Linked DNA regions of Homo sapiens. The protein of the gene in region 1 purifies or fractionates together with the protein of each later gene. This does not show direct contact. Each region holds a gene or a part of one and is shown in the gene's direction. Other genes may lie near its edges.

What was found.
Region 2: the proteins of EML1 (region 1) and NEK9 purify together in Homo sapiens (affinity purification with mass spectrometry; one large-scale study listed by BioGRID and IntAct). This does not show direct contact.

What each region holds. Positions count from the first base shown.
Region 1 is NC_000014.9:99,911,845-99,915,668, forward strand, and holds part of EML1 (echinoderm microtubule-associated protein-like 1), read left to right. Parts: intron 1-2,334; coding exon 2,335-2,460; intron 2,461-2,721; coding exon 2,722-2,853; intron 2,854-3,824. UniProt on the Homo sapiens protein: Modulates the assembly and organization of the microtubule cytoskeleton, and probably plays a role in regulating the orientation of the mitotic spindle and the orientation of the plane of cell division.
Region 2 is NC_000014.9:75,085,351-75,089,174, reverse strand, and holds part of NEK9 (serine/threonine-protein kinase Nek9), read left to right. Parts: intron 1-533; coding exon 534-695; intron 696-1,944; coding exon 1,945-2,157; intron 2,158-3,824.

The sequences.
Region 1 (3,824 bases):
ATTTATTATAAAAATCTGTCTTCTCTTTTAACTTTTTCTTTTTCTTTTTTTCTTTCTTTCTTTTTTTTTTTAGAGCAGGGTCTGGCTCTCACCCAGGCTGGAGTGCAGTGGTGTGATCACAGTTTACTGCAACCTCCCCCTCCTGGGCTCAAGTGATCCTCCCACCTCAGCCTCCCAAGTAGCTGCGACTTTAGACACACACCACCACACCTGGCTAATTTTTGTAATTTTGTAGAGATGTTGCCCAGGCTGGTTTGGAACTCCTGAGCTCAAGCGATCCTCCCACCTCAGCCTCCCAAAGTGCTGGATTACAAGCATGAGCCACCACGCCCAGCCTCTTTTAATTTTTAATTTCTAGCATGTTATTTTGGAGACATTATTGCATTGAGTGAACTAGTATTTGTTGAGTATCTACTTCGTACATGGCCCTCAGCTAAGTGCCAATGTGCTCCCTAGGGCTGTGACTCCTTTTGATACCCGGTGTACCTCCCCATTATCTACTTGGCAGCCCTGCATTCCGGTAGGCACCAGAGGCAAGATATTTAATATTCCTTCTGCCCACTCAGTGAATTTTCTCCCCCAGGTTCCAGGAAATCGTGAGCAGACACTGCAAAATTGGCCTCATTCTGAAGGGTGATGCTTTTCATCCCTAGCTTAGAATGGACAGACTTTAGGACTTTGAACCCAGATACACACAAAACACTTATATTTTACATCAGAGAGCAACATGGCACCACCCTCTGGCAGTGTGAAAATTTGGTTCTGTTGATTATTTCCCTTAATAAAGGAAGATCTTCATCTGAGCTTTGGAAATCACTTCCCCTTGCCTGGAGATTCTGTTGTGAGAACATTTTTAATAATAAGATTTGACCAGCATTTGGTTGAACATATTGTGAATTGCTAGAGTCATAGACATGCCCAAGTCATATTATAACTGTAAAGAAAGCTCCAAAGCCCCATCTAATTTCATAAAAGCTATTCACTGTTTGTTAGTATCTGATTCTTCCTCATTAGCATGGGTCATCATCAACTTGACTCAAATCTGTGCTAACATGCCACACTGGAGAATGTGTGAGGGGAGGCTGCTTCTTTCCTGGAACGGGAGAGCCTAACAGCAACCGCCAGGGTCAAGCTGCAGCATTTGTTCTTTTTATAGTACAAGAACTTTGTTTCTTCATCATAGCAAATTGTTCTTAATGGGTGTATTTTGCAATTCTTTCTCTTAACATTTAGATTATTCCATATGTTTATGTCGATTTTTAAACTGAACAGAATGACATTGCCAAAGAACTTACCATTTTAAGTTGTATTATGGCAGTGTTATTATTATTATTATTATTAATTATTATTATTTTCAGACAGGGTCTGGCTCTGTCACCCAGGCTGGAGTGCAGTGGCGTGATCTTCAGCCTCTGCCTCCCAGGCTCAAGTAATTCTCCCACCTCAGCCTCTTGAGTAGCTTTCCAGCTACTACACGCACCACCATACCCAGCTAATTTTTTTTGTATTTTTGGTAGAAATGGAGTCTTGCTATATTGCCCAGGCTGGTCTAGAACTCCTGGGCTCAAGCAATCCACCTACCTCGGCCCCCCAAAGTGCTGGGATTACAGATGTGAGCTACCACACCTGGCCTATATTCTTTACTTTCTGAATTGTATCTACTGTTGCTATCAGAAATTGTAAAAAGTAAAGAGAAAACTAACCAGTAGCATTCCTTATTTTTAAATTTTGTTGAGGAAAATGCTTTTTCTTAACCTCATTCTTGCTGATGCTTCTAAGATATATAAAATGTTTGTAGTTTAAAAATAAGGCTTAGGGTTTTGATCACTCACTCAACAGTTGGCTGTGGTATCTGTTTTTTTGAGATGGAGTTTCACTCTTGTCACCCAGGCTGGAGTGTAGTGGCGTGATCTCGGCTCACTGCAGCCTCCACCTCCTGGGTTCAAGTGATTCTCCTGCCTCAGCCTCCCAAGTAGCTGGGATTACAGCCACCCACCACCATGCCCAGCTAATTTTTGTATTTTTAGTAGAGACGGGGTTTCATCATGTTGCCCAGGCTGGTCTCCAACTCCTGACCTCAGGTGATCCACCTGCTTCAGCCTCCCAACGTGCTGGGATTACAGGCATGAGCCACCAAGCCTGGCCAGCTGTGGTATCTATGTGAAACTCTCCATATATATGTATATACAACATATATATTTGAACGTACATTATATACATATGTGTATATAAAACTGTTATAGGGACTATCATTATGATAAGTGTTTTGAATGACTGAGCTAACAACTGAATGAAATTGTACATCTTTTCTTTTCATATGACTTTTCAATGCAGATTCCAGAACAGTTTGGTCCAATACGGACAGTGGCCGAGGGGAAAGGCGATGTGATCTTGATTGGCACAACTCGAAACTTTGTCCTGCAGGGCACTCTGTCAGGGGACTTCACACCCATTACTCAGGTACGATCCCACTCAGCAGGCCCGGCAAACACTCTCATTTTGCATTATATCAGACCCTAATCAAGCATTACAATCAGGTGCTTTATACTACGATAACCTTCCTCCACCCCAGAGTGTCTGTGGCTGCTGAAAGATGGGAGGAGAGAAACTGTTGAGAGCAGTTATGAAGTCAGCATGAAGCCTCGGTTCGTCATCCCTTACGGCTCCTGAGTGCGAACTGTAGTATCTCAGAGCGCTTCTGTTTGTCTTGGTTATTTGTAGGGTCACACTGATGAGCTCTGGGGACTGGCCATCCATGCCTCAAAATCTCAGTTCTTGACCTGTGGGCATGACAAGCATGCCACTCTCTGGGACGCTGTGGGTCACCGTCCCGTCTGGGACAAAATAATAGAGGTAAACATGCACATTACATTTCCATTTTTCTTACAGAAATTCATCTGGAACATGTTTATTTATTTTTTGCATGAAATCAACAGTGATACAAAGTTGTCCCAAAGCAAATGTTATTTATCTATTTAGAGTTGCCTTAACATTGCAATTGCATTTAACAGTGTTACTTTTAACATTGCCTCGTGGCCTCAGCCATGTAATTTTGAAGTTTACTGTTGAAATTTTCTGACAAGAAGTTGTTCTTTCTGAGTTCATTGTCAGATTTTCTGAGTACAGTCTCTCAACCATCCTAAGAGCTGAAAAATACTTGTTATGAGCCTGCATTCTATTTACAGTGTACCCTTTGAATGGGAATTTACAAGCTGTACTAAACACACGATTGAATATATCTCTACATTTTGAGTTTGATGGTAAAGTGAACTTTCGTTTGAAAGTCAGCTGGGCACGGTGGCTCATGCCTGTAATCCCAGCACTTTGGGAGGCCAAGGCAGGCAGATCACCTGAGGTTGGGAGCTCGAGACCAGCCTGACCAACATGGAGAAACCCCGTCTCTACTAAAAACACAAAATTAGCCGGGCATGGTGGTGCATGCCTATACTCCCAGCTCCTTGGAAGGCTGAGGCAGGAGAATTGCTTGAACCCGGAAGGTGGAGGTTGCAGTGAGCCAAGATCACGCCATTGCACTCCAGCCTGGGCAACAAGAGCAAAATTCTGTCTCAAAAAAAAAAAAAAAAAAAAAAGTCAACATCTCTGTGAATTTTGCAAAAGAAACTCTGATGACCTGTCAGAGTGTTGAAATGCCCTTTCCCCACGTGTATTACTTGAGCACTGACTGTTTGCATGCCAAGCACTGTGCGTGTATTATCCTTAATCCCTGTAGCAGCTCTGCAGGTTGAAGAGGTTTTTTTTTTAACTCTGATTTTATTGAATAGGAAATTGAGGTGTAGAGAAGTTAAATAACTTGCCAAGGTCAC
Region 2 (3,824 bases), about 25 Mb from region 1:
GGATTATTTGAGTCCCAAAGGTCAGGACTACAGTGAGTCATGGTTGTGCCACTGCACTCCAGCCTGGGCAACAGAGCAAGACCCTGTTTCAAAAAAAAAAATCTGTAGGTTTAAAGCTCCCTGTCTAATAAGACTAAACTTGCTAGTGATTTGAGGAGCGTGAACAGAGGAAGCAGCATGCTGTTCTGTCTGCACCTTTAGCCTCAGCTTTCAGCAGTGTTGCAGCCAGCCTCACTGACACTTCCTTGGAGCGCCCCAGCTCACTGAATAGCCTGTGTAGAATAAGCGTGTTGGAGTGACACACCAGAAACTCCAGCCTGTGTTCTTTGAGTTTGCCTTTGCATCACTGTTTCTCTGATGAAGGGGTGGCAGTTTTTTCACAGGTAGGCTGTGATATGTTGTTAACCACAACTGTCTTGCCCACTAGAGGGTGCTGAAGTCATGAGAGAGGGAAAACTATAGCAAAAAGAAGGGAATTTGGGAGGAAGCAAATACTGCAAACAGACTAATGAGATTCTTTCTCATATACATAGGAGCTGGAAAATGCAGAATTTATCCCCATGCCTGACAGCCCATCTCCTCTCAGTGCAGCGTTTTCAGAATCTGAGAAAGATACCCTGCCCTATGAAGAGCTGCAAGGACTCAAAGTGGCCTCTGAAGCTCCTTTGGAACACAAACCCCAAGTAGAAGCCTCGGTAACTGAGCTTTTTGCCTTTGAATCACAACTAGGTAAACAGTCACTGCAAGCTCTGCCTGGTTCTTCTGGCCTCGCTCTAGCTTTTGGGTTTCAGCTGCCCTGCATCAACTCATTATACTGTCTATTCAGCAGTACTTAAAGCCTCAACCCAAGACTAAACTGAGTTGCCTCAGAAAGGTATTTACCCTTCCACATTTCTGACAGGCTAACACCTTTCTAAAGGGATTGTCTTTTCCCTCTGCCTCAGAAATACCAAAATTCAAATTCAGTTTTTCATGACACTGGCAGGGTAGGTTAGAGGCTCTAAATATAAGAAAGAAGTAATACTGGTAGTCTAGTGAGGAAGCAACACATGTACACCTAACCTTGGTAAAAATGACATTGTGGTAAATACCTCAGTAAAACTATAATCCAAGGTCATGAAACTTTTTCTATAAAAGGCTACATAATTATTTTAGACTTTTCCTATTAAAGGCCACATAGTAATTATTTTAGACCATTTTAGACAGAAATGTGTACAGCCTCTTTTGCAACTACTCAACTCTGACATTGTAGCACAAAAAGCAGCTTCAAGTAATACATAATGAATGGGCATCCTTGTGTTCCAATAAAATTGTATTTACAAAAACAGGCAGTGGGCCAGAATTGGCCTATGGGCTATTTGTTGAACCCTCCTATAAAAAAAGTACAGTAGAAAAGAGAAAAATCCAGACTAGGATCATCAGAAAGCTTCCCAGAAGAGGTAATAATACCTTTGAAACTTCAAGGTGAATGTTTTAATTTCTCTGTCAGTTCACCTTCTTAAATTGTGTTGGTGGTCCTGTTTACTGACCACCTCTCAGATCTTTTCTAAAGTGTGATTCACTGCATATCATGAATATTGACCCTTTGGGTCTGTGATCTGAAAGACTTGTTCCAAACCAAATCATGCTTTTCCCTACTTCAGCATTTTAAATGAGAAGATACCAAGGTGCTTTAAAATTTTTCACAAAGTCCTCCAAAATAGATGATTGGTCTCCCACCTTGGCCTAATGGGGACTGAGGCAGAGAGTTCACTTTCCATGTTATGTCAGTGCCCATCGCTGTTATAATCCTAGCATTTCTGTTTCTCGTACATATATTCATGTGTATATATGATTTATCTTGTTAATTTAAAAGTAAAATCCGATTGCACTTAGAGGAAGTTTGGATTGAGGAGCTATGACACCTGGGCAGAACCTCCTGCAATCTCCTTCTTGTCTCTCTAGTCACCTCGGCTGAATCCTGCAGTAACCTGTGCTGGGAAGGGAACACCACTGACTCCTCCTGCGTGTGCGTGCAGCTCTCTGCAGGTGGAGGTTGAGAGATTGCAGGGTCTGGTGTTAAAGTGTCTGGCTGAACAACAGAAGCTACAGCAAGAAAACCTCCAGATTTTTACCCAACTGCAGAAGTTGAACAAGAAATTAGAAGGAGGGCAGCAGGTGAGAGCATTAAAAGAATAATCCAATTTCTAAGCCTGTTTTGAAGAATCACAGAAACAAAACACAAAGTACTGAAATAGACTTGTTCCTTTGCAGGTCCTTACTTTTTTTTTGAGACGGAGTCTCGCTCTGTTGCCAGGCCAGAGTGCAGTGGTGCTATCTTGGCTTACTGCAACCTCCGCCTCCCGGATTCAAGCAATTCTCCTGCCTCAGCCTCCCGAGTAGCTGGGACTACAGGTGTGCACCACCATGCCCGGCTAATTTTGGTATTTTTAGTAGAGACAGGGTTTCACCGTGTTGGCCAGGATGGTCTCGATCACTTGACTTCATGATCCACCCGCCTCAGCCTCCCAAAGTGCTGGGATTACAGGTGTGAGCCACCACGCCTGGCCGATCCTTAGTTTTTAATGATACCATTTTTGTAATTATAATCCCAGAAGCCTTGGGCCTTGTTCAGGCACCTAGATTGAATCATTTTCATCACTTGCATTGCTTTTTCTTAGTGTATGTTTTTTCTTTTACAATACTTAATTACATACCTCTGAAAATAGACATTCTCCTGAACAACCACAATACTATAACCACACCTAAAAAAATTAATACTAGTATTGTCAATTCTCATCTAGTATCCAGCTGATACCTCAATTTTCCCAGTTTTCCCCCACAAAAATGTCCTTTATAACCATTTTTTATCAGACTAGAATCCAGTCAAGAATCCCACATTATATGTATGTCTCATTTCTTTTCATCTAAAACAGCTCCCTCCACCACCATCACCTTTTTTAAATTATTTTATTTTTATTTTTATTTTTATTTTTATTTTTATTTTTTGAGACAGTCTCACTCTGTTGCCCAGGCTGGAGTGCAGTGGCGTGATCTCGGCTTACTGCAACCTCCACCGCCCGGGTTCAAGTGATTCTTCTGCCTCAGCCTCCCGAGTAGCTGGGACTATAGACGCTTACCACCATGCCCAGCCAATTTTTGTATTTTTAGTAGAGATGGGATTTCACCATATTGGCCAGGCTGGTGTCAAACTCCTGACCTCGTGATCCACCTGCCTCGGCCTCCCAGAGTGCTAGGATTACAGGTGTGAGCCACTGCGCCAGGCCTTATTTATGTATTTATTTTGAGACAGGGTCTTGCATTGTCACCAAGGCTGGAGTGCAGTGGCACAAACATGGATCACTGCAGCCTTGACTTCCTAAGCTCAAGTGATTCTCTGACCTCAGCCCCCCAAGTAGCTGGAACTACAGGCATGTTCCACCATGCTCTGCTTCACCTTTTAAAAAAATACTTTTATGACATTGACTTGTTGAAGAAACCAGGGCAGTTGTTCAACAGAATGTCCCACATTCTAGATTTGTCTTGTTTTCTCAGGGTGTTGTCTAACTTGTTTTTCTGTCACCCTGTCTTTTCTGAAAACTGGAAGTTTAACCTAAGGCTTGATTAGATTCACATTAAACATTTTTAGTGAAAATACTTCAAAGGTGATGCTGCTTGCATTATTTTTCGAGAGCCATGCTATTGTTTTATATAGAGGGAAGTAGAAGCAGAGAAATAGGGTTAGGCCCTTGGCTTTGCCATTTGCCAGCTGTAGGTGTTTGGGCTACTTTGTTTTCTCTGAGCCCTGGTTTCTCACCTGAAAGAAAATAATAGACACCTTGTAT